Linked DNA regions of Homo sapiens. The protein of the gene in region 7 purifies or fractionates together with the protein of the main gene of each other region. This does not show direct contact. Each region holds a gene or a part of one and is shown on either strand. Other genes may lie near its edges. The genes, in order: HACE1, SPTAN1, FAM83C, CORO1C, CPNE9, SYNRG and NEK4.

Evidence for each region.
Region 1: the proteins of NEK4 (region 7) and HACE1 purify together in Homo sapiens (affinity purification with mass spectrometry; one large-scale study listed by BioGRID and IntAct). This does not show direct contact.
Region 2: the proteins of NEK4 (region 7) and SPTAN1 purify together in Homo sapiens (affinity purification with mass spectrometry; one large-scale study listed by BioGRID and IntAct). This does not show direct contact.
Region 3: the proteins of NEK4 (region 7) and FAM83C purify together in Homo sapiens (affinity purification with mass spectrometry; one large-scale study listed by BioGRID and IntAct). This does not show direct contact.
Region 4: the proteins of NEK4 (region 7) and CORO1C purify together in Homo sapiens (affinity purification with mass spectrometry; one large-scale study listed by BioGRID and IntAct). This does not show direct contact.
Region 5: the proteins of NEK4 (region 7) and CPNE9 purify together in Homo sapiens (affinity purification with mass spectrometry; one large-scale study listed by BioGRID and IntAct). This does not show direct contact.
Region 6: the proteins of NEK4 (region 7) and SYNRG purify together in Homo sapiens (affinity purification with mass spectrometry; one large-scale study listed by BioGRID and IntAct). This does not show direct contact.

What each region holds. Positions count from the first base shown.
Region 1 is NC_000006.12:104,765,920-104,769,419, reverse strand, and holds part of HACE1 (E3 ubiquitin-protein ligase HACE1), read left to right. Parts: intron 1-3,500. UniProt on the Homo sapiens protein: E3 ubiquitin-protein ligase involved in Golgi membrane fusion and regulation of small GTPases. Acts as a regulator of Golgi membrane dynamics during the cell cycle: recruited to Golgi membrane by Rab proteins and regulates postmitotic Golgi membrane fusion.
Region 2 is NC_000009.12:128,559,087-128,562,586, reverse strand, and holds part of SPTAN1 (spectrin alpha chain, non-erythrocytic 1), read right to left. Parts: intron 1-3,500. UniProt on the Homo sapiens protein: Fodrin, which seems to be involved in secretion, interacts with calmodulin in a calcium-dependent manner and is thus candidate for the calcium-dependent movement of the cytoskeleton at the membrane.
Region 3 is NC_000020.11:35,289,626-35,293,600, forward strand, and holds the start of FAM83C (protein FAM83C), read right to left. Parts: upstream 2,801-3,975; 5' UTR 2,680-2,800; coding exon 2,167-2,679; intron 1,014-2,166; exon of another isoform or gene 778-1,013; intron 1-777. UniProt on the Homo sapiens protein: May play a role in MAPK signaling.
Region 4 is NC_000012.12:108,658,519-108,662,018, forward strand, and holds part of CORO1C (coronin-1C), read right to left. Parts: intron 402-3,500; coding exon 220-401; intron 1-219. UniProt on the Homo sapiens protein: Plays a role in directed cell migration by regulating the activation and subcellular location of RAC1. Increases the presence of activated RAC1 at the leading edge of migrating cells.
Region 5 is NC_000003.12:9,717,333-9,720,832, reverse strand, and holds part of CPNE9 (copine-9), read right to left. Parts: intron 2,805-3,500; coding exon 2,623-2,804; intron 2,384-2,622; coding exon of another isoform or gene 2,359-2,383; coding exon 2,231-2,358; intron 1-2,230. UniProt on the Homo sapiens protein: Probable calcium-dependent phospholipid-binding protein that may play a role in calcium-mediated intracellular processes. Plays a role in dendrite formation by melanocytes.
Region 6 is NC_000017.11:37,606,619-37,610,873, forward strand, and holds the start of SYNRG (synergin gamma), read right to left. Parts: upstream 2,801-4,255; 5' UTR 2,738-2,800; coding exon 2,661-2,737; intron 1-2,660. UniProt on the Homo sapiens protein: Plays a role in endocytosis and/or membrane trafficking at the trans-Golgi network (TGN). May act by linking the adapter protein complex AP-1 to other proteins. Component of clathrin-coated vesicles.
Region 7 is NC_000003.12:52,750,441-52,753,940, reverse strand, and holds part of NEK4 (serine/threonine-protein kinase Nek4), read left to right. Parts: intron 1-42; exon of another isoform or gene 43-415; intron 416-1,604; coding exon 1,605-2,009; intron 2,010-3,500. UniProt on the Homo sapiens protein: Protein kinase that seems to act exclusively upon threonine residues. Required for normal entry into proliferative arrest after a limited number of cell divisions, also called replicative senescence.

The DNA.
Region 1 (3,500 bases), on a different chromosome or scaffold from region 7:
CTTTGATAAGAGAACCATAAACATGATTCTTATCTGTGAATACTATATCTGGTGAGGTTTGTCACTCCTTTCAGATATATATGACAAAGTGGAAAGATCTAGTAACAATTGTATTCCAGTGCTTTGGGAGACTAAGGCAGGGGGATTGCTTGAGGCCAGGAGTTCGAGACAAGCCTGGGCAACATAGTGAGACCTCATCTCTATAAAAAATAAAAAAATTAGCCAGGCCTAGTTTTGTGTGGCTACAGTCCTAGCTATTCTGGAGGCTGAGGTGGGAGGATCACTTGAGCTCTGGAGGTTGAGGCTACAGTGAGCCAAGATGACATTACTGCCCTCTAGCCTGAGTGACAGAGCAAGATCCTATCACTTAAAAAAGAAAAAAAAATGTGTATGAGGTATATCTATATTTATGCTTGCATCTCCTAGCAGCACCCCCCCTTACTATGACATGATTTTTGTTTAGATTTTTAAAATATTATTAATTTTTTTGTATTTGTGTATTTTAATGAAATCTAGAAAGATGGAAAATATTGAATAAATAAGAATAAGTAAGAATATGCTCACATTGAGGATATACCCTTCATTGTGCATCTCACCAGAGGTGGGAATACTATTTTAATATTAAAGAGCTTGAAACTTTTGTTTCTCAGTTTAATACTATATATATTTACATTTTGTTTAATTGCTTGGTTGATTAGAGGCTAACTTTTTTAAGTAATTAGGAGTGTTAATAGCAGGGTCTTGATTATTAATGTTATACATTCTCAGCTTTCATTTTTTTTATATAAACATTTCTCACAATAAATTGAGCCTTTTTTTTCTAATGTTACCAGTATAGTAATTGTGTATCAAATTGTTGAGGTTTCAACATATAATGCTTATTTAATAAATAACCTGATTCATATAAAACTCTTAAAAATCTTTAGAAACACATCACATTTTACCTTGCTTAAAATTGTTAAGATATTCAGTTTACAAAATGTTACTTTAAAATTTTCAAACCCTGTTTCTTGGAAATACTATTGATTTTTGGTTTGTTCTTTTTTTTTGCTTATACATTCTGTTATGAACTTTTCTGTTACTTTAGAGTCAGCTTTTTACTTTATAGGTAGAAAGTTTTTTTGTCATGTTTAGAGTTCGACTTTATAATTTTGAACTATTGAAACTTAAATGACTTGCTAAACTTGTTAGAGGGCCTTTGTAAACTGATCTCCACATGGGGGAGTCCCTTATTCCCAAGTTTTATTAAAAGGCTTTGGTGATTATAAAGTGAAACCAAATAGATGAAAATACCTTTAATTTAAAAAGCAATATGTTAAATAAATACAAGCAATATAGGCAGATGTATATATATTAGTTCCACATTTGAAATATAATACTCTTAAATTAGTTAGATATGGCCTCTTTTGCTCATATTTTCAGTTCTAGCATTTAGAATTGAAGCTGTAGGGGTTTAAATGTTAGCATCACTTTTATAATATTAGTCATAAAGTTCATCCAGGCTTGGAGAAAAAAAAGAAGATAAGAGTAAGATGGGGCAGGTATCAGGGAATGGATGAAGTGGTATGGAAGTTGAATTATAGAGGTGAAGCATTAAGTGGTCGAGTAGGAGTAAGGATGGGAAGAAGGAAATGTTCTGGGCTTACAGGAAGGCACAGAGGTGACAGAGCATGCTTTGGGAAACCACAAGTAGATCAGAGTTGTGGAGCTTAGCTTAGATGGAAAAGTAAGCAAGTAGAAAAAGATGATGTGGGGAAGGGAGAAAGTGGCCAAATTCTGAAAGACTTTGCATCCACAAATAGTACTTTGAAAATTATTCTGAAGTCTGTGGAGATGATTGCAGATGTTAAAGAGGGAAATGACATGATCAAATTTCAGTTAAGAAAACAAAAAGAAACAACCAAACTCAGCTTGGAGTGTGAAAAATGGGTTGAAATGGGGCGGTACTAGAGTCAGGACAACTGAGAGGAGGCTGTGGCATTTTGGTTTGGGGAAGCATGCATGAAGAATTATGTAAGGCAAGTGGCAGTGAAGATGGAGAAAATGGAATAGCTTTTAAGCTTTTGAGGATAATAGAATTTATAGAACTTGGTAATTGGGAAGATGAGAAAGAGGAAGGACTCAAGGATAACTGCCACTGTTGTGGATTGGGCCACCTAATGTCTGATAGTGTTGCCATCATACTCTTCATCAACCTCATTATCATTAATTCTGTTTTTTAGTGATAATAATTACTACTTATTGAGTGCTTTGTGTTTCATGTATCTGAACCATGTTCTTTATGTTTCTCATTTCCTGTAACAGCCTCTTGAGATAGCTATTTCTCTTTATTTAGTGTGGAAACAGCCTTAATATTAAAACATTTGACATTTATTAGGTTTTTATAATGTGCTAGGCACTGTTTGATGTGCCTTATGGGTATTATACTTAACTCTGTGAGGTGGAGATACCCCTTTCTACAGGTGAGGAAACAGAAGCATATAGGAGCTAAGTAGCTTTCTCCATGCAGTCTGTAAATTTCAAGCCTGCTTGTGCAGGGGCCATCCAGTCTTCTCTGTATGGTTCCAATATTAGTATACGTGCTGCTGAGACAAGCACTTGAGCCTGCTTGTAACTACAACACTGCATTTCTTTAGACGTTAAATAACTGCCCGAGGGCACAAAACTTGTAACTGATGTTTTCTTATTTTAAATGGATGTCTATAAGACAGTGTAACTGCTAGGCTTCTCATTTACTAAGGCAGTGAATGTGAACAAAGTAGCAAATACAAATTTAGTATGTTTTAACGATTTCATTTTAATATGGTTTTATTGCTAGTCTTATATGATTAAATTTTTAGTGCTAGCTTTGCATGATTTATTTAACATACACATTTAATGCACATACAAGCACAAAATACAGACTTTTATCCATAGATTATTGACTTAAAGTGGATTCTTTATATGCATCTTTAGAAAAGTATACAGGTTGAGCATCCATAATTCAGAGTACCCCAGAGTCTGAAACTTTTCGAGTACTGACATGAAGCCATAAGTGGTAAATCCCATACCTGATCTCATATGACCAGGGGGCACTCAGAACACAAGCATACAACATACAGTTGTTTCAGCATCCCCAAAGGAAAAAAGACCCTCCCAGCCCCCTTCTGCTGCATATATATTTTTTCTTCAACACACCAAGATTCCATCATGCAAGCATGCCCACAAGGGTAATAAATGACATGTGCAGGACGCATATGCCAAGAGCAGGTTCCCCACTGTGCCCCACGTGGGGCCAAGGCCGATGTGCATTTGTGCATTACTCATGTCTTTTCTTTTCTTTTGCTTATTTTCTGCTCTGTGGTGCAGAGGTATTGTTGGGAATGTCAAAAAGGCCTGCAGATACCCCTGTGGGTAACAGTGACAGGGAAAAGAGGGAGCATTTGTCTTTATCCGTAGCACAGAAAGTCAAGCTGTTGGAGAAACTGGACAGCAATATAAATGTGAAATGTCCTACAGAA
Region 2 (3,500 bases), on a different chromosome or scaffold from region 7:
TAAACAAGACTTCACTCAGTCACCTTCCAGTTGTCTCCTCCAGCCGTATCTCATGTCAAGCTCCCTCACCAACACCAATTACAGGTCCTGGACAGGGTCCATTTGAAAGCTCAAAAAGTTCCCTTTCCCAGGAGTGCACTCTCCTCTCCCACTCCCAACCCTACCATCTAATATCATACAGATCTCGGCTGGGCGCGGTGGCTCACGCCTGTAATCCCAGCACTTTGGGAAGCCGAGGCAGGTGGATCACAAGGTCATGAGCTCCAGACCAGCCTGGCCAACATGGTGAAACCACATCTCTACTAAAAATACAAAAATTAGCCGGGTGTGGTGGCACGCGCCTGTAGCCCCAGCTACTCGGGAGGCTGAGGCAGAAGAATCGCTTGAACCTGAGAGGCGGAGGTTGTGATGAGCCCAGATCGCGTCACTGCACTCCAGCCTGTCAAAAAAATAAAAAATATAAAAAACAAATCATACAGATCTCTGAGTCCAAAGCAAATGCCTCGTCCTCTATGAAGTCTTTCTGAATCAGAAGTCTCCACTCCCTGACCACCCACCTCTATCATTCATCTTATAACACTGCCACATTCTGCCATGAAATTATTGTGTTCTCCCTACCACATTCATAAGTCCTTTAAGGAACTCTAAAGAAGACCATATTTTACTCTTACTCTCTGGGCACAGAACTCAGGACTTGGCACATATTATAGATCCAATTATATTCAGAGCTTGGAAATAAAGAAACTGCCATCGTTTTATAATTAAGTAGTTGGGAGACAGGTAATTTAGTAAGCAAGTTGCAAAGGCCAGGATGACCTGGGATCCTCCGGTTCCCAGAATATGGCACAATAGACACAGTGATTCTTAACATGATTAGAGTTGACATATTGACATATTCTTTTTTTTTTTTTTTTTTTTTTTTTTGAGACGGAGTCTCGCTCTGTTGCCCAGGCTGGAGTGCAGTGGTGCAATTTCGGCTCACTGCAAGCTCCGCCTCCCCGGTTCATGCCATTCTCCTGCCTCAGCCTCCCGACTAGCTGGGACTACAAGCATCCACCACCTCGCCCGGCTAATTTTTTGTATTTTTAGCAGAGATGGGGTTTCACCATATTAGCCAGGATGGTCTCGATCTCTTGACCTCGTGATCTGCCTGCCTCGGCCTCCAAAAGAGCTGGGATTACAGGCGTGAGCCACCGCGCCTGGCCTTTTTTTTTTTGAGATGGAGTCTTGCTCTGTCGCCAGGCTGGATTGCAGTGGTGCGATCTTGACTCACTGCAACCTCCGCCTCCAGGGTCAAGCAATTCTCCTGCCTCAGCCTCCCGAGTAGCTGGGACTACAATCACAAACCACCACGCCCAGCTAATTTTTGTATTTCTCTTCTTTTTAAGAGACAGGCTTTCACTATGTTGGCCAGGATGATCTTGATCTCGACCTTGTGGTCCGCCCGCCTCGGCCTCCCAAAGTGCTGGGATTACAGGCGTGAACCACCGTGCCTGGCCGACATATTATTTATTGATGGCTGTTTGGTTATTTATTAGTTCCTTTCACTTCTTTTTTTTTTTTTTTTTTTTGAGATGGGGTCTTGCTCTGTTGCCCAGGCTGGAGTGCAGTGATGCTATCTGGGTTCACAGCAACATCCGCCTCCCAGGTTCAAGTGACTCTCCTGCCTCAGCCTCCCCAGTAGCTGGGATTACAGGCACCCGCCACCACACGCGACTAATTTTTGTACTTTTGTAGAGATTGGGTTTCACCATATTGGCCAGACTGGTCTCGAACTGACCTCAGGTGATCCACCCACCTCAGCCTCCCAAAGTGCTGGGATTACAGACGTGAGCCACAGCACCCGGCCTTCACTCCCTCTTTATTAGTTCCTTTTCACATCTGCACTTTGGAGTGAAAAAACAGTGAGGCAGACACAGTGGCTCACACCTGTAATCCCAATACTTTGGGAGGCGAGGCGGGCAGATCACCTGAGGTCAGGAGTTTGAGAACAGCCTGGCCAACGTGATAAAATTCTGTCTCTACTAAAAATACCAAAATTAGCTGGGTGTGGTGGCACATGCCTGTAGTCCCATCTACTCAGGAGGCTGGGGCTGGAGAATCCCTTGAGCCTGGGAGGCGGAGTTTGCAGTGAGCTGAGATCAAGCCCCTGCACTCCAGCCTGGGTGACAGAGCTAGACTCCGTGTCAAAAAAAAAAAAAAAAGGCGGGCACGGTGGCTTACACCTGTAATCCTAGCATTTTGGAAGGCTGAAGGGGGTGGATTGCCTTAGCTCAGGAGTTCGAGACAAGCCTGGGCAACACGGTGGAACCTCGTCTCTATTAAAATACAAAAAATTAGCCAGGTGTGGCGGCGTGCGCCTGTAATCCCAGCTACTTGGGAGGCTGAGGCAGGAGAATTGCCAGAACCCGGGAGGCTGAGGTTGCAGTGAGCCAAGATCACGCCTTTGCACTCCAGCCTGGGCGACAGAGCGAGACTCTGTCTCTTAAAAAAAAAAAAAAAGGTGAGGTGGATGTGGATGTATTAATCATTTCTTAAAAATCAAAATTATCGGCCAGGCAGGGTGGCTCACACCTGTAATCCCAGCACTTTGGGAGGCCAAGGCGGGTGGATCACCTGAGGTCAGGAGTTTGAAACCAGCCTGGCCAACATGGTGAAACCCCATCTCTACTAACAATACAAAAAGTAGCCAAGCATAGTGGCGCACGCCTGTAGTCCCAGCTACCTGGGAGGCTGAGACAGGAGAATCGCTTGAACCCGGGAGGCAGAGGTTGCAGTGAGCCAAGATCGCACCACTGCACTCTAGCCTGGGCGACGAAAAAGCAAGAGTCCGTCTCAAAAAAAAAAAAAATCAAAATTATTTAAGATTGAGTCTTGGTAAACAATTAGGGTTAGACTTATTTATTTATATATTTCCTTTGTTCTCAACCCTCAGGAAACAGTTAAGATGGAAAAACATTGAGAAATTATGCATCTAATTTGTTTGCTTCCAAAATTTTCTTGTAAAGAAATTTTCCAAGGAAGGCATAGTTACACATGGAACAATAACGACACTGCACACGAGCTCCTGAAAGAGATGGCAGTCTCCAGGATTCGAGTGTATGGTGCTGTTCTGCCTCCTATCACAGGAGTCACTGCATTTCTAAAATCCTTTACCTGCTACAGAAATTAAATCACATTTGGGAACAGCCCTTTATGATAAGAAAATCTCCATCATAATATCGCAAAGGTTCCATCTGAGCAAGTCCCCCTGCTTGGGCCCAGCTTGCTGATTTGATCCTGCCAATCCAGAGAGACAGTTCAGCAAGGCCCTGCTGAAATTAACCAACCTAAAAGGCCCTCTTTGTCACCCCAGTGAAGTAGAACGAGTCAATTCTATACCAAGTGCTTTGGTCAGGCAATAATGGACTTTTCTTTCCTGCAGTAGATCAGCTGACGTCAGTAGGTGGGAGGTCTGCCAAGCCACAACAGGCTGTCTCTGGGGAGCTGGGTATCTGAAA
Region 3 (3,975 bases), on a different chromosome or scaffold from region 7:
CACGCCCAGTCGCTAGTTTTTTTTTAATTCTAATTTTTTGTAGAGATGGGGTTCTCACAAGCTGGTCTTGAACCCCTGGCCTCAAGCGATCCTCCCACCTCAGCCTCCCAAAGCACTGGGATTACAGTCAAATCCCAGCCCAGATTTGACTGTCTTGAACCCCTAGCTGTTTGAAAGCATTTGTGTGCATCCTTCTGTGCACCGAGTGTTTATCCATCATCAGATTCTCAAAGATGACTGTGGATCAGCTGTGCTAGTCCAACACTCCCTCTGCACTGAGCCCCAGATGGGACAGCAGTGAGAAGGAGAACCCAGACCCCAATTCCCAGGCAAGTTCCTGGCACTCCCCCGACTAACTCCAGCCCAGCTCTGACCCAGGGACTGTCTGTCTGAGGCTCCCTTCTCCAGGGTCACAGCTACAAGCCACTTACTGGGGTCTTCGCTGCCCTTTCCCAGTCCTGCCTCAGTTTCCCTGTGAAGCCACAGAGGTCTGGTGTGACCCCTTACACTGCAGACTCCCTTACTTGCACCCATGCCAAATGGATCCAAGTTTTCTGCTCAGTTGAGGGCTGGGCTGGGGCTTGTGCCTCCATCCCATATAAAGGGCTGCCTCAAAGAGGCCCCTGAAACCTTCTTGGCACCTCCCAGCCCCCAGCTGGCCTTTCTTCCCATGGCATATATCTGCTATGAGAGTCTTCTCTCCCAGGCAGGGCCGAGAGGCAGGAGGTACAGAGCATAGCACTCCAGCTCTGGAGTCAGAAAGAACTGGGTTCAAACCTGGACTCTATCACTTCCTGGTGACACAGCTTTGGGTGAGTCCCTTCACCTCTGGAAGCCTCACCTTCCTCATCTGTTAAATGGAGATAATGATAGCCATGTCTCAGAGTTACAGGGAATTAAATGTGAAAATGCTCAAGACATAACAGAGCTCTATAAACATTGGGCTGCAGGGCAACGCAGCATTTCCCAAGGTCACTAGGAGTCATGACAGCCCAGTGCACGAACCTGGCTCCTGACCCAGGATAGAGGGGTCTAAATGGGGGCTGAGAAGGCGAGGCACTGGGGGATGCCCTAGTTCACAGCACAGGCCTGGCCAGGGTGGGGGAACAAGGACAGGCAGGAAGATCAAAGAGGCAGGGGTGAGGAGGACGACAGCAGCAGCCTCACTAATAACCCCATTCCTGATGCCAATCAGGCCTGGCCGTCCCCTGCCTGGGGCACAGGAAGGCTTGCCAGGGAGGCTCTGGAAGTACCGGTGGGATCCCAGCATCCTGGCTTCCCATCTCTGCAGCAGGAGCCTAACTCTCCCTCAAACCCTGCCAGGGATCATCTCGTCCATTCCCCTGGAGTCGGAGGCCAGGGCTTCAGAAGGGAAGCTGTGCTCGTGTGTGGCCAGAGCCTTTCTGGGTGCTGACCACCCCTACCTGCCCTCCCAATTCTCTTTCTCCTGAGCTCCCGCTCCCCATCACTGAGCCCAGCAGCCTCCTCTCCTCCTTCCTCCTTGGTTCCAAAGCCCAGCCCTCAAGGCCACGCCAAAGAGGCCCACACGCTGGCCCCTTCCCCTGCTTCAGGCCCAGCTGCAGATGTGGTGCAGGAGGGTAGGGGGCAACTAGGGACCTGAGCCAGCAAGGAGGGCCGGACTGGTCCCCAGGACCCAAGTCAGAGAGCCCCTGTCTCCCCAAGCCCTGAGCTCTATGTCACCATATGGACCTCCCTGGGCAAGTCCCAAGCCCCTCTCTGGCCTCAGTTTCTTCTTCTATAAGTGAAGGAGGTGACTCAGATGTTCCCCAAGGTTGGAGTTCTTAGTGTGGGGATCATAAAACTTTTTGAGAATCTGATTTAAGGCAGTGGAGCATCTTCCAAGGTAAAGATGCAGCGAGGACTCCTCCCTCCAACCTGCACCACTTCGTGTGCATTTCAGGGGATTGTGGAGTCCCTGACACCCATGCCCTGTTCTATGCTCATCCATACTATTCCTGGGTACCAAGCAGTTGCCAAGGTAAATATGGGATGTCCCCCTTCTAGGAGTTTGCAATCTAATAGTGCCAGAGGTGCTGGTCCTCATTCTGCCCCTAAGTCGCTGTGTGGCCTTGGGCTGGTCCCTTCCCTCTCTGGACCTCAGTTTCCTCCTCTGTGAGATGAGTGATGGAGAGATGAGGCCCTTACCGTGTGGGCCTGGCTGAAAAGGAAGCGCAGCAGGTCCTTGATGTTCTTGGCCTTGTCCCTCTGGAAGTGGACCACAGCCTGGGTGGGGCTGAAGCCTGTGGCCTGTGGCACCTCGGGCCAGCCCAGGTCCAGGTCTGGGGGGTCTATGTCAGAGGCCATGGGGAAGTAAGTCCCTGAGGTGACTTCAGAGAGCAGGCTGAGGCGGTCTGGCCCGGAGGCCTCCTGCCCCTGAGCCTCGCTGAGCTCAGGGCCCCCGCGCACATGGCTGGTCATGTAGTCCACATCCAGGGCGCTCAGGAAGGGCAGCTCCCGCTCCTCGGAGATGACCCGCAGGTAGGCAGCCTCACCCCGCTCCAGGAGGGCGTCGGCCGCCAGCCGAGCCGCCTCGCTGTGCCGCAGCACCAGCGGTGAGCTCTCCCGCCACCACGGCAGCTTCAGCTCTTCCACCCGGCCCCGCAGGGGTCCCGCCATGCCCTGGGCTCCCAGGACCCCAGGCCCCGGGCCTCCGAACATGCCTGCCACGCGGCTGCCTCACCCGCCGGCAGGGCCCATGGCCCGCACGCTGGGCTGGCTGCAGCAGGAAGAGGAGACCAGCAGAACCGCCTTCTGCCCGCCCGCTCGCTGTGTGTGTGGCAGGGCCCCCAAACTGTTGCCACCCTAAATCAGAGCCACGCTCCACCCTATTGCCCCTGGCCTCTGGAACCTGTCAGGTCAGCCCCACCTGTCTGCCTGTGTTGGGACTCGCCTGCCCAGGGAAGCGGCAGTGCCAGGCCCTCGGTGCACACTCCTGCCTCCCTCTCTTCCTCCCAGCAACGCCGCCCCATCCCCACCAGGCTCCCAGCAAGTCTCCAAATGCTGACTTCCCGGGACCCACAGAGGTTGAATTACAGCCAAGAGGGGCCCAGGCGACTCAGGAACACACACTCACACGCACACGCACACACACTGCAGGTGGGTGAGCGACTCAAGACACCCAGGAAAAGACATGAACACCCATGCAGATGGACACACTGACAACTGACCGATACACAGACATGGAGTGTGGGCTGACACAGACCGACCACACATTGTAATCACATCCACTTGCATAAACTCTTCACCCAAACGCCGATGTAGAGACCGGCCATGACCCCCACAACACATACCACAGTGGATAGCACGTGCCCTGGCTCAAGTCTGCAAGGCCCTGAGAGCTGAACGACTGTCACATGGAATATCCAAGGACATCAACGCTGGTCTGTCCCCCAGCCAGCCCTCTTTTTGCTCCCATAATCGTCCTGCCACTCTCCATCATCTTAACTGTGGTGCTCACAGCCCCCTGGCTCTCTCCCACCCCGGCTCGGAGCTGTCCTTCAAGAACCTAGAGCAGTGGCTCTCACCCTGACCCCAGGGGTGGTGAGAGGTGATGAAATGCAGATCCCCGGGCCCCACCCTCCTGGAAATTCTCATCCAGAAGGTGTCCGTAGGCTTCTGGAGCTTGTCTTTTTTCTTTTTCTTTTTGAGATAGGGTCTTGCTCTGTCACCCAGTCTGGAGGGCAGTGGCGCAATCACAGCTCACTACAGCTGTGCCTCAGTTTCTCTGGACTCGAGCGATCTTCCCACCTCAGCCTCCTGAGTAGCTGGGATTACAGGTGCATGTTACCATGCTCGGCTACTTTTAAAATTTTTTTAGAGATGGGATCTCACTATGTTGCCCAGGCTGATCTTGAACTCCTGGCCTCAAGCAATCCTCCTGTCTCAGCCTCCCAAAGTGCTGGGATTACAGGTGTGAGCCGCCACACCTGGCCATTTTTCTTTTTTAATTGAGAC
Region 4 (3,500 bases), on a different chromosome or scaffold from region 7:
TACAAAGTGAGAGACTTGAGTAAAAGCTGGAAAATTTACAACTCTGGAGAGAAGCACAACTGGGGAGACAGAAGCCTTTATAAGCCTTCTCTTATTCACAGTTGGTGTCTACACACAACAGGGTCCCACTGACCAGTACCGCTGCCTGCCTTAAAAAGCAGAAAGCTCACACTCACTCAAGTGCTCCAACTACTGAGTTTTCATCCTAGGAATACTCACAGCAACAATCTCTTGTTTCCTGGGATCAATGACTCTCACTTTCTTGTCTTTGGAAGCTGTGCAGATCAGACTGCCATTCCGGTTCCAGCTCACATTGTAAATCATGTCTGAATGCATATCGTCCAAGTTTATAAGGGCTTCCCCTGTTCCCACATTCCAGATGATAATGGCATTATCACAGCCTAAAACAGGCAAAACCATCAGAGATTAGAAGATTAGAAACACCTATGTAACACACTCAGAAAACTACAGATACAGTGAGAATACACATATGTATATGCAGAGAGAGAGAGAGAGAAAGAGAGAGAGAGAAAAGATGCGGCTGATTGTCAGAGGCCCTACCAGAGGCCCTACTTACTAACAGCGTTAAAAACTGAAGTGACAAAGGAAAAAGTTTGTATAAAAGAAATAAAAGTGTTAAAGTAAAAACACAACTTGTTAAGTTTGGGTTCATATGAAACAATCAACCAAACAAAAACAAAGAACCACACCAAAACAGAACCCTATTTTCTTTAAAGAGTTAACTGGGCTGGTAGACCCAAGTGACTTCAAGTTTCCCTTTCTAGTAAAACAAGCATCAGGGTGTTGCTGCCAGCTTTGGGAGACCCCTATTAGGCAAATACGCTCCTTCCTTTTAAAGAAAACTTTGATTTTCCCCTGCTATACAATTAGTACATGTATACTATAGAGAACATATATAAACAAAAGGAAAAAAAATCACTTTTAATCCCACCACTCAGAGAGAAGATCATTATTACTTTTTTGATGTTTCTTTCCGAAAGATATTTCTGTGCACATACATAAATTATTTTACATACAGAGATGGGTTCATACACTTTACACATGGGCTGCTTTCTGCACTTGGTGGTAGGCTGTGACCCTTTTCACGTGCCAAATAAACTAAAAGTAAAAGGTTTAAATGACTGTTTAGGGCACTCAACAAAAACTCTGGGTGGCAGGTTATTCAAATCAGTGAGACTCTAAGACACAGCTTTGGGATATTAAAGATGGTACAACAGTGGAAGGGAAAAGCCAAGAGTAAGGCCTGTTTGCTCACAACAGATCTGTACCTTTAAATGAAGAGAAAAATAGGCCAAGACTGCTCTGATCATGGTGAGAAGCCCAAACTGTAATCAAGTAGCTACATAGATTCAGAAACGGATTCTGAAAGAAGCCCACAATGTCAACTCATTCACCATCTCAGCTCACCAACTCCTTCCTTCCTTCAAGGGTCTGCCCCACGCCTCCAGGCCCCTTTAAAAAGAGGCAGCATGTGTTGCTCCTAGGATGTTAGTTCAAGGATGAAGCAAAATACGGGAAGGACATCCTAGAGGTGGATTCTTGCCAACAAAGCAATTTGGAAATCATTTAGAAAAAATAGTCACTAACATCCAGGATACTTAAGTTACCTAAGGGTTAGAAGTAGGAAACTGGCCGGGCACGGTGGCTCACGCCTGTAATCCCAGCACCCTGGGAGGCCGAGGCGGGCAGATCACCTGAGGTCAGGAGTTGGAGACCAGCCTGACCAACATGGAGAAACCCTGTCTCTACTAAAAATACAACATTAGCCAGGTGTGGTGGCACATGCCTGTAGTCCCAGCTACTTGGGAGGCTGAGGCAGGAGAATCGCTTGAACTCAGGAGGCGGAGGTTGCGGTGAGCTGAGATCATGCCATTGCACTCCAGCCTGAGCAACAAGAGCGAAACTCCATCTCAAAAAAAAAAAAAAAAAAAAAAGAAGTAGGAAACTGGAGAAAAAAACTACACAACAGTAACAAAAGTTGAAGCTAAACTCTGGGATGGACAATTGAACCTTCCTCTGCCTTCTTCCCTATAGGCAAACAGGTAACTTCAGCCCCGGCAGCTGGATCATATAGCCTAAAAATATGCAGAACACGACAATCACCCATTCTCCTTCACATGTAAAAGGGAGAATGCAGACCAGTCTGTTGCTGCTGCCCTGTATTGAGCCTTGATGAGAAAGGTAGCAGGGAATTTTCCATGAAGGAATTCCAGCTCTGGAATTTTTTTCCTCTCCTTAATCAGACTGAGGTTCTGAGAGAACATCAAAAATGATTCCCAAGTATAGTCGATGGTGATTATAAAAAACATGGCATCTTTTTTGAAAAGTGGGCCTTAGTTTCAATAGTTACTTGGCATTATAATTTTTTATTTAACTCACTATGAGTCATAAACATTGTGTATTCCCAGTTAAAAACTGAACTGCCCCTCCTCCTTTTTACTGGTGAGGGGAAAGACCTTTAAAAATCCTATCTCTAACATTAGTATCACTTTTTAAATAAACCACTTTTATTAAGGTATAACTTACATACAATACAATGCACCCATTTTAAGTATATATTTGCTAAGTTTCAACAAATGTATAAACTCATGTAGCCACTACTATGATCAAGATACAGAATATTTCCATCACCCCACAAAGTTCCCTCATGCTCTCTGTATTGCTTTCATAAAAGAAAATGAAATCTCCAATTTTAGATAAAGGAAAAGATTTCTGTACAACACCAGTGTCCAGAAATAGGGGACTTATCAAGTAAAATGAGGTATATCCAGAAAATGGATTAGTATGAAGTCATTAAAAATAGGAAGAGAGCTTAATGGCACGTGAAAAGGGTCACAGCCTACCACCAAGTGCAGAAAGCAGCCCATGTGTAAAGTGTATGAACCCATCTCTGTATGTAAAATAATTTATGTATGTGCACAGAAATATCTTTCGGAAAGAAACATCAAAAAAGTAATAATGATCTTCTCTCTGAGTGGTGGGATTAAAAGTGATTTTTTTTTCCTTTTGTTTATATATGTTCTCTACAGTATACATGTACTAATTGTATAGCAGGGGAAAATCAAAGTTTTCTTTAAAAGGAAGGAGTGTATTTGCCTAATAGGGGTCTCCCAAAGCTGGCAGCAACACCACAGAGGGAACACAGGGCTTCTGGCTCCCAACAAAGTACACCTTCTACCATATCAGAAATAACCAAAACTATGGTTCATGGAGGGCCCTGGCAGGAACCATGAAACCTGCTGAAATTATAGCAGGAAATTCATAGCTTTCCTCAGGTTGTCGAAATGGCCTTGAAACACACACACGTGCACACACACACAAGTATGTATGTGGGCTGGGGGAGCAGTGCACCCCAATACTCTTCACCATGGTTTCCTAATAATCTGCTTTAAAACCATATAGCACACAACCAAAACACATTTGCTTCCCCCCACTCAGAGAGCCACAAGAGTGGAAGACAAGGGGAGGACCGCTGAGCT
Region 5 (3,500 bases), about 43 Mb from region 7:
CACACTCAATGGTGCATTGCCCCTTTACTGAATGTTTACTAAATGAATGAATAAATTTTGAATTAGTGTAGTTGCATAAGATAATATTTAAGAAGTCAGCTTAATAACAACAAAAACATGCTCAGGTTCCAGTATTAGTGAAAAAAAAATCAGTAGTGAAATGTTATATGTATAATAATTTGACTATAATTATGGATACATAAGGAAAAGAACTGTATATACATCCACATTCCATGGGCAGTATTCAGGGTGATTTCTTCATTTCTCTATTGAAACTTTCTACGGTTATGATTAAAGAATCTATTATCATTACTGCAAATTAGAAAATAAATCTACTAGAATTAATACCTGAGTGATGAAATAATCTGTACAACAAACCCCCATGTGTCACATGTCTCAAGTTTGTTATGTAACAAACCTGCACATGTACCCCTGAACTTAAAAGGAAAGTTAAAAAAAAAACAAATCTTCGCTAGGGGAAAAAGTCTATGGACATATAAATCTCACTGAAATCCTTTCACTTTTATTCCCTTTTTGTTTAATCTTTTTACTTCTGAGCTTTCTGAGGGGCTTTGTGTTAGCTGGGTTTCTTCTGTTTACTATAAAGTGGGGTTTGCTTATTTTTTGTTCAATCAAATAATCTTTTTCTTTTTTAAGGTCAAACAGAGCTTATTTATGTTTATTGACATATGTTTGATTTTAGTTCTGTCATTTCATAAATTCGTTTTAAGTTTATTTTAATACCCTCTGGTTTTTTAAGCCATTTGATGTATGATCTGGGTTTTCTTTGGTTTGTGTGTGTGTGTGCATATATATATATATGTATATATATATATTTTTTTGAGACAGAGTCTTGCTCTGTCGCCCAGGTTGGAGTGCAGTGGTGTGATCTCGGCTCACTGCACCCTCTGCCTCCCAGGTTCAAGCAATTCTCTGCCTCAGCCTCCCAAGTAGCTGGGATTACAGGTGCCCACCACCACGCCTGGCTAATTTTTGTATTTTCAGTAGAGACGGGGTTTCACCATCTTGGCCAGGCTGGTCTTGAACTCCTGACCTCATGATTCACCCACCTCGGCCTCCCAAAGTGCTGGGATTACAGGTGTGAGCCACCACACCTGGCCTGCTTTGTATAGTTTTATTCTGAAAATTTGGACAGTCACTCATCTAGTTTTTAACTTATCATTTATGGAGCATGTACCATGGGCCAGACACTGTGCTAATACTTGTTACACTATTATCTAATTTTAACCTTGCAATAACTCTATAAGGAAGCTGCTATTGTCATCCATTATGACACCACCTTACAGGGATGAAATGGATGCTTAAAGAGGCGAAGTTGCTTAAGGTCAGATGGTTAGTGAATGGTGGAGGAAGGATCCCACTCAGATCTGATGCTAAAACGTACGCCTTCACCACAGTGCTGTAGGCTCTTCTCTCTCTTACCCAAACTCAAGCCCCAGCTTGTCATTCTCAGGCAGTGGGGTTAGGGTAATTTGCTGACACCCTTTGTGCCGCATAATAAGGTACAGTCATCCCTCAGTATCCACGGGGGATTGGTTCCAAGACTCCTGTGGATACCAAACTCCTCAGATATTCAAGTCCGTCATATAAAATGGTGTAGTATTTGCATATAACCTATACACATCGTCCTGTATACTTTAATTTTTTTAATTTAAATATTTAATTTAAAAAAATGAGCCAGGCATGGTGGCATATGCTTGTAATCCCAGCACTTTGGGAGGCTGAGGCAGGTGGATCACTTGAGGTTGGGAGTTCAAGACCAGCCTGGCCAACATGGTGAAACCCCGTCTCTACTAAAAACACAAAAACGAGCCAAGTGTGGTGGCATGCGCCAGTAATCCCTGCTATTTGGGAGGCTGAGGCAGGAGAATTGCTTGAATCTGGGAGGCGGAGGTTGCAGTGAGCCGAGACCATGCCACTGCACTCCAGCATGGCAACAGAGCAAGACTCTGTCTCAAAAAAAAAAAAAAAAAAAAAGAGATGGGGTCTCACTAAATTGCCTAAGTTGGTCTTGAACTCCTAGGCTCAAGTGATCCTCCTGCCTCAGTCTCCCAAAGTGTTGGGATTACAGGTATGAGCCACCATGCCTGGCCTCTCCTGTTTACTTCAAATCATCCTAAATTACTTAGAGTGCTCCTGACTATCCTTGGGGGGTCAATCCCTTATGTGGGTCCCCTCATTTCCCCCAGCTTCCACCCAGTTCCCTTACCTGGCCACTTGGTTGATGACAGGAGCAAAGTAGGTGGGCCCATAGAGCTGCACTGTGCGCAGGCTCTGGAAATAGCTCTCCAGCACACCCTCGATGCCCGCACAGTTGGGGTCCTCATCATTGTTGTTCTGTCAAAGAATATGCCCTGCCAGGCTGAGCCCATGCAGGGTACATGCAGGAGTGCTCTGATTCCAGCTCACTCCTTCCTTTTTCCATCAGTCCCTTTCATGCTCCCCTCCAAACCCAGCCCTGCTCCCCTCCCTGCTCTGCTATCCTCTCATAGCTTCCTGTTCCTCTACATGCCCTTTGAAGTAATGTAAACAGAACAAAATCATCAACTTGGGTGAACCAGATGCCAGGGCACGGAGGGTAAGCTCTGGCCAATACCATACCAGGGGGAACTGGTGGGAGATCCGTCCCTCTGGGGGCAGCTTGGCCCCAAAGCCATAAGCTGGGAAGAGCTTATCACTGTCATAGTCCTGGATGATCTCTCCCACTGCCTTGAGGGCCATGGCATAGGCGCTGAGCTGGTAGGGACTCATGTAGTGCAGGGAGGTAGGCTGCAGAGGATTCCCTGTAGGGACACAGGAACCCCAGCCTCATGATCATCTGGATCATCCATCTGTTCACCTGCTTATCTTTGTGTGCATTCATCCACCTATATCCATTTATCTGCCCTCTACCCATGTCCTCCCTCCTTATTTTACCCAATCATCCATTTGTTCATTTATCCATCTATCCACCCACCCATCCCTATATCTATTCATCCATTTACCTACCTACCCACACATCCATCCACCCATCTACCTAGCCATACATCTATCTTTCAGTCTACTTATACATCTTTATCCACCAATCTCTCCATTCTCTTATGCAGCTATCCACTTACCCACTCATCCATCCATCAGTCCATCCATCCATCCATCCATCCACCCACTTGTCTACTTGCCATTTTTCTTCATTTTCCACCCATCTATACAACAGTATTATTTTATCCATCCGGCTAGCCAGCCCTCTCCATTCCATTCATTCCCTTGTCTATTCTCATATGGATCTATCCACTCATGCATTTCCCCTAATTACTTGTTATTTCCCCAACTTAAACTTTAGTCCATTTGTCCACCCACATACCCATCGATGCATCTACTTGTCTAACCTATTATACTCACCAACCCATGTACCCACTCCATTTGTTCATGGATCTATGCATCCATTCATGACTCACCACCTGTTCACCTCTCCATCTCTCCTTATACCCCCTTTCTCTCTC
Region 6 (4,255 bases), on a different chromosome or scaffold from region 7:
CTTTCAACTCTTTTTTTTTTCTGCCTTGATTAAAGAAAAAAAAAATTTATACTTCTCATCTCTTGGGCAAATTTTGCCCTTTATACAACTCTACCATTTATTCTAAAGTAGCTCATCCAGGACACCAATCAAAAGTAGGGTAATATTAAATTTGGAAAACGTTATTGTGTTTTGCTTAGCCTCTTAGAATATAGAGAAGTATCTAAACAATACAGTCAGTTATAGTTCATGGATTTTCTCCATTAAAGGTGTAGAGAAGTTGCCTGTTTTTTTTCTTCAAATATACTTAGGTTGCCATAATGTTAAGTTTCCTTATAAAATAATTTCAGGGAGGGTGGGTGGCAAAAAGAAAATTAAAAAGGAAATAAAATAACTTCAGCCTTTACACCATTACTCTCTAAAAAAAATAATATTCCTTTTTCTATTGAGGATACAGCTTCTCAGCCTCAGAAAGTTGCCAATATATGTAACATATGTACCATACATTTTTCAAGGTAAGAATCATTTTAACCACTTCTTTCTCTCCTGTATATCGTTTACAGTTTTAGAATGCAGATGTTGCTACATTTACAAAGGGGGGAAATTTTAAAATCATTCTAATTTCTATCAAAATTCAACCCATATTTATTTTAAAAATTTGTGTCCATGGACCAATGATACTCAAATACTGCAAACTAAAGGGAATAATGCACTTGAATTTCTGAACCTGAGGTCCTCCCCATCCAAAAACATTTTTTAAGTAAATAAAAATTTGGGCCTAGATATCAATTCTTCTAAGTTTACATTTTCCCAGAACTTGGTGCCATGATTAATCATATACTTGATCAAATTAATACCATCCAGGGACATTTTAGAAACTGTAATCACATATAGGAAATAAATAGAGGATGCCGGGCGTGGTGACTCAAGCCTGTAATTCTAGAACTTTGGGAGGCCAAGGTGGGCGGATCACTTGAGGCCAGGAGTTTGAGACCAGCCTGGCTAACATGGTGAAACCCCGTCTCTACTAAAAATACAGAAATTAGCTGGGCGTGGTGGCGCACGCCTGTAATCCCAGCTACTTGGGAGGCTGAGGCAGAAGAATCGCTTGAACCCGGGAGGTCGAGGTTGCAGTGAGCCGACATCGTGCCACTGCACTCTAGCCTGGGTGACAGAACGAGACTCTGTCTCAATCGATCAATCAACAAAATTAGCCGGGCATGGTGGCGCGCACCTGTAATCCCAGCTGCTCCGAGGCTGAGGCAAGAGAATCGCTTGGACCCAGGAGGCAGAGGTTGCAGCGGGTCGAGATCACGCCGCCGCACTCTGGCCTGGGCAACAGAGCAAGACTTCCTCTCAAAAAAAAAAAAAAAAAAAAAAAAACAAGACAAAAGAAAAAGAAAAAACAAATAGAAGGGAATTATTACATATGTTTCTTCTCCAGCCAGAAACTGGCTTACACGAAGTATTTATTTTTTAAAAAACCCTCTAATGAAACAACGGAGAGAACAAAAGAGAAAGCAAAAAGTTTAAAAATCTAAAGTTAAAGATGTGCAGAGGAAATGAAAAATGGGGTTACACACAGGTGGTTTATTGAACAGCCACTGCTCGTTTCCTGACAAGCACCTGCAAGAGGTGATAACTTTAAGGTCCTTACACTTTTGTAGTGTTCACGACTCCGAAATTGAAACACTGCATATAAAAAAAAAACCTAACACTTCGTTTTCCAAAGACAATTTAGGATACTGAAGATGCAAAGCTACTTTTACCTCCAAATGTGTGTGCTGTTGTGTGTTGGTTAGTAAAACAAAATCAGACTAGGTCATTATAGAAGTGGAGTGAAAACTTCCTAGAATAAAATATTTCCTTAAATGATAACGAATCTGTCAGCTTGTAAAACGTACATCTCCCTTACCATTCTGGGTATAAGAACCACGGCAGTTCTTGGCTGAAATGTGGCAGAGGGCAGATTTGTTTAAGGGCTGAGTCTGGAAGCTTTGTTCTAATAAATGCGCAACTGCTGTTTAACAGTGCACTTTCTTTGTTTTTAAATGCCTTTTTAAAAAGAAGACAGACAAGTCTTAAGAGTTAGTGTACAAGACAAGAACTCTATCTCAAGACCATTACTAATTCAGAGGTCTTTAGATGTTCCTGCTGTTTGTCGCGGGTTAAGGAAATAAAGAGGACAGGACACTCTAAAAGGGGAAGAGACAAATAGTCCACACACACACCCCCCTTGGAAACAGTCCTCCAGCTTTGTGAACAGATTTTTAAAGCCCTCCCTCCAACATATCCGGTTAAGTCTAGAAAGCCCAAGGAAAGGGAAGACCCTGGTCGCTTCAGAGGCAGCTAGGACTAGGAGCGGAGTCGCGGTTCCTGATTTGCCCCGCCCCCCCCCACCCCAAGAGGACCCTCATCTTCTCTCCCCTCCCACACTGGGCGCGCGCTCGCTCCCCGCTCGATTCCAGGCGGCCGGCGCCCCCAACTGATCCCGGAACACCAGCGTCCAGCACCTGGGCTCCACACGCCCCTTTCGGCCTGGGTCCCTGGGGGATGACCCTCCTCCCGCAGCCCAGTTCCAAGGAAAAGGATCAGGGCTGGAGAAAACTGCCATAACTGCCAAGCGCCCCTCGCCGCCCCCGCGGAGGCCAGCGGGCTCCCGCCCGGCTCTTCACACCTACCCGCCTCCCCCGGCGGACCCCGCGCCAGCTCCCGCGGCCCCGCCGCCACCAGAACCAGCTCCTGGCCGCAGCGCCATCTTGCTCCCGACCTGCCGCTGCCTTCGCCGCCGCCACCTTATCAGCAGCTGTCAGCTGAACACAGCCACTTCCGGGTCAAACACCAGGCCCCACCTCGCCGCGGACCGGGCGATGGGGCGGGGCCTCGCGCCCACGTGACTCCCCCGGCCCTCGGGGAGGCGTGGCGCGCCCACGGCACGTGACCCGGCGCCGCAGGGGTCCCCCAGATTCAATTCTAGCTCTCGGGCTGGTGGGGCGGTCGCGGGCGCCTCTCCAAGGGAGCTGATTCATTGTCTGGTAGGCCCTCTGCAGGGCCCAGCTGGCGGCCCAGTGGCAAAGCGCCGTTGGTCCTCCGTTTGAAAACCATGATCGCGGTTAGTGGAAAGAGTAGGCTGAGTCCTGATTTTTAAACTATACGGTGGGTACACTGGTGTTCTTTTATTGTTACTCTTTACACACAAAGAACAGATAGGTCCTGAAGGGCCCTTTGATAGTCTCGCAGCACTGATGAGTGATCAGCTCTCCCCTCTTTCTCTGGAACTCGGTAGCTTCATGTTGGCACCTATCACAGACGCTGAAGGCATTTAAATTTTATTTTAAATCAACCAAGAGCCCAAAAACCCAACCCATATTTCGAAAAAACTCCAAGGTGTACTACTCTTGTTTGGTTCTGCCATCCTGCCACCTTACAGTCCTTTTGTTTTTCCTATTCTTGCAGGCAAGTGCAAAACAGTGGTTTTTGGAAGGCAATTCATAATTACTCTGAAGCTATTTCGGCATATTTTTTACTGATTTTTTTTTTTTTTGAGACAGGGTCTTGCTCTGTTGTCCAGGCTGGAGTGCAGTGGCATGATCATGGCTCACAGCAGCCTCAGCCTCCCTGGCTCAAGCGATCCTCTCGCCTCAGCCTCCTGAGTAGCTGGGACCACAGGCATGCACCACCACACCGGGCCAATTTTTTTTTTTTTTTTTTTTTTTTTTTTTGTAGAGATAGGATCTATGTTGCCCAGGCTAGTTTCAAACTGCTAGGCTCAAGCTATGCTCCCACCTCGGCCTCCAAGTGCCAGGGTGTGAGCCACATGCCTGGGCTGTGATTTTTTTTTTTCTTTTAATCAAACTACTGTCTGGAAGTAAAACATGAAAGTTGAGTAATTTTCTCAAGCACGTAGTTTGCTTGCTAACAAGTAATGGATTAATTAGCTTTACGTTTTCACTCTTGTCTCAAGGTTTTTACTGGGTAATAATTTGTAATAAGTTATTAGGCACAAACCACTGGTCAGGAACTGTACACGCATTTTAAAAAATCCTCAGTATCCTTAGGAGTTACAATTGGCATCTTACAGATGAGAAAATCAAGGTTAGAAACAGTTACTGTCATTTGTCCAGATCATACAGCTACAAGCAATGAGGATCAGGATTCAAATCCAGGCCAGTTTGACTCTAAAGTCCTTGCTCATTTCACCAGAGCCAGCTATTCAATTTTTATGTTTTTTCTTTTGCTGTAACTGCCTGTTCACTAATTTCACTCCTTCCCTTCC
Region 7 (3,500 bases):
GCCTCGGACTCTCAAAGTGCTGGGATTATAGGTGTGAGCCACCGCGCCTGGCCTAAATATGCCATCTTGATAAAGTCTGTGCCCTATGAATATTAGTCCAAACCACTTTAATACAGAGGGATAAGATGGCTGCACATAGACACCTAATAACGTCTGCTCCGCAACCAAGGTAAATTCAGCAAGAAGAGAGTATTTCAGGTGGACGAGTCTGTAGGAAGCATGCATGCCATTTGTTGACTGTGCTGCTGGGACAGGCTCCGTAGGCTTAGTTATGGGCAAAGCATTTTTGGGAATAGAAGGCAGCTGTTTCTTTGGCATAGTTCATCAAAGACTGGTTTTTGCATCCCCTGCCAATGTTTTCAGCTTCAGATCGTTTCCATGTAGAGCTTGTAGACATGCTCCAGAAAGAGTACATAATGTGTACTCCAAACAAAGAAATTCAGTAGTATGTCATCAGACTCTTCCGTCCTCAGCATTCAATTTACCAGCCTTCCGGGCATTGTGCCTCACCTCTGTGCCTTCAATGTAGAGTTCCCAGCTGCCTATCACCTTTGTGGCCCAGCGGCATCTCTGGCCACAGTGCCAGTCCTGCCCCTGCTTGCTCCCTGCCCTGTCCTGGCTTACTTCTTTTCTTTTCTGAGACAGGATCTCAACTGTGTCAACCAGGCTGGAGTGCAGTGGTGTGATCACGGCTCACTGCAGCCTTGACCTCCCGGCTCAAGCAATCCTCCCACTCAGGCTTCCAAGTAGCTGGGACTACAGGCACTTGCCACCATGCCCAGCTAATTTTTTGGTATTTTTTATAGAAATGGGGTTTCGCCATGTTGCCTAGGCTGGTCTCAAACTCCTGAGCTCAAGTGCTGGGATGATAGGTGTGAGCCACCACACTTGGCCTGGCTTATTTTACTTAGCATGTTTTCAGGGTTCATTCGTGTTTTAGCATGTATCAGAACTTCATTCCTTTTTATAGATTAGAAATATTCCATTGTGTGTGTGTGTGTGTGTGTATATATATATATATATTTTTTTTTTTTTTTTTTGAGGCAGGGTTTCACTCCTGTTGCCCAGGCTGGAGTGCAGTGGCGGGCTCTCGGCTCACTACAACCTCCGCCTCCTAGGCTCAAGCAATCCTCCCGCATCAGCCTCCCAGGTAACTGGGACTACAGACATGCACCACCACACCTGGCTAATTTTTGTATTTTTAGTAGAGATGGGATTTCACCATGTTGCCCAGGCTGGTCTCAAGCTCCTGGCCTCAAGTGGTTCACTTGCTTTGGCCTCCCAAACTGCTGGGATTACAGGTGTGAGCCACCGTGCCTGGCAGTATTTACCACATTTTGTTTATCCCTTCATCTGCTGATGGACTTTTGGGTTGTTTCCGCCTTTTGACTATTTTAAATAAAGCTGCTGTAAACATTGGTGTACAAATACTTAACTTAAATCCCTGCTTTCAGTTCCTTGGATTACATACTTAGGAGTGGAATTGCTGAGTCATATGTTAATTCTATGTTTAACTTTTTGAGGAACCTCTTGTTGCATTTTGAGTTGATTTTGTATAAGATATGAGGAGTGCTATAATAATTTCCAAACATCTTTTCATTCAGGGTGAAGGCAAATGTTTGTCCCAGGAGAAACCCAGGGCCTCTGGTCTCTTGAAGTCACCTGCCAGTCTGAAAGCCCATACCTGCAAACAGGACTTGAGCAATACCACAGAACTAGCCACAATCAGTAGCGTAAATATTGACATCTTACCTGCAAAAGGGAGGGATTCAGTGAGTGATGGCTTTGTTCAGGAGAATCAGCCAAGATATTTGGATGCCTCTAATGAGTTAGGAGGTATATGCAGTATTTCTCAAGTGGAAGAGGAGATGCTGCAGGACAACACTAAATCCAGTGCCCAGCCTGAAAACCTGATTCCCATGTGGTCCTCTGACATTGTCACTGGGGAAAAGAATGAACCAGTGAAGCCTCTGCAGCCCCTAATCAAAGAACAAAAGCCAAAGGACCAGGTGAGTGATATGCACACATGAGATACTGGTTTTGGAGAGAAGACTGAAAGTGCAGTTACAAATATGTGGGTTCTGTTGTCATTTTAGGAAAATCAGTAATTCTATGTATCAGTTTAAACATAGAAGAATATTTGCATCAAACCAAAAAGAAACCCAGTACCCTATAACAGTCACTCACCATTCCCTCTTGCCCACAACTCGTGGCAACATTTGTCTCTATGGATTTGCCTATTCTGAGGATTTCATATAAATGGAATCATACAATTTATGGCTTTGTGTGTTTGGCTTCTTTTTTTCTCTTTTTTTTTTTGAGACAGAGTTTCACTCTTGTTTCCCAGGCTGGATTGCAATGGCGCGATCTCGGCTCACTGCAACCTCTGCCTCCTGGGTTCAAGCAGTTCTTATGCCTCAGCCTCCTGAGTAGCTGGGATTACAGGCATGCGCCACCACGCCCAGCTAATTTTTTTTTTTTTTTTGAGACAGAGTCCCACTCTGTCGCCCAGGCTGGAGTGCAGTGGCGTGATCTCGGCTCACTGCAACCTCCGCCTCCCGGGTTCACACCATTTTCCTGCGTCAGCCTCCCGAGTAGCTGGGACTACAAGCACCCACCACCACACCTGGCTAATTTTTTTGTATTTTTAGTAGAGACGAGGTTTCACCGTGTTAGTCAGGATGGTCTCGATCTCCTGACCTCGTGATCTGCCCATCTTGGCCTCCCAAAGTGCTGGGATTACAGGCATGAGCCACCGCACTCGGCCGATGCCCGGCTACTTTTGTGTTTTTAGTACAGACGGGGTTTCTTCATGTTGGTCAGGCTGGTCTCGAACTCCCGACCTCAGGTGATCAGCCTGCTTTGGCCTCCCAAAGTGCTGAGATTACAGACATAAGCCACTGGGCCTGGCCTGCCTTCTTTTACTTAACCTGATGTTTTCAAGGTTTATCTATGATGTAGGATGTACCAACATTTTATTCCTTTTTTAAAAAAATTTCATTTTTTAATTTTTTGAGACAGGGTCTCTGCTGCTCAGGCTAGCGTGCAGTGGTGCAAACACAGCTCACTGCAGCCTTGACTTCCTGGGCTTAAGTGATCCTCCTGCCTCAGCCTCCTGAGTAGCTGGGACCACAGACATGCCCTGCTAATTTTTTTATTTCTATTTCTTGTAGAGAGATGGGGCCTTGCCATGGCCATGTTGCCCAGGCTGGTCTCAAACTCCTGGGCTCGACAGTCCTCCCAACTTGGCCTCCCAGCGTACTGGGATTATAGGCATGAGTCACTGGACCCTGCCTCATTCCTTTTTATTGCCAAATAATATACTGTATTTGTATTTGTGTGCCTGTGTGTGTGTGCATGTGTGTGTATACACACACATATATGTATTTTTTGTTTGTTTGAGTCTCACTCTGTCACCCAGGCTAGAGTACAGTGGCACGATCTCAGCTCACTATAACCTCTGCCTCCTGGGTTCAATGATTCTCGTGCCTCCGTCTCCC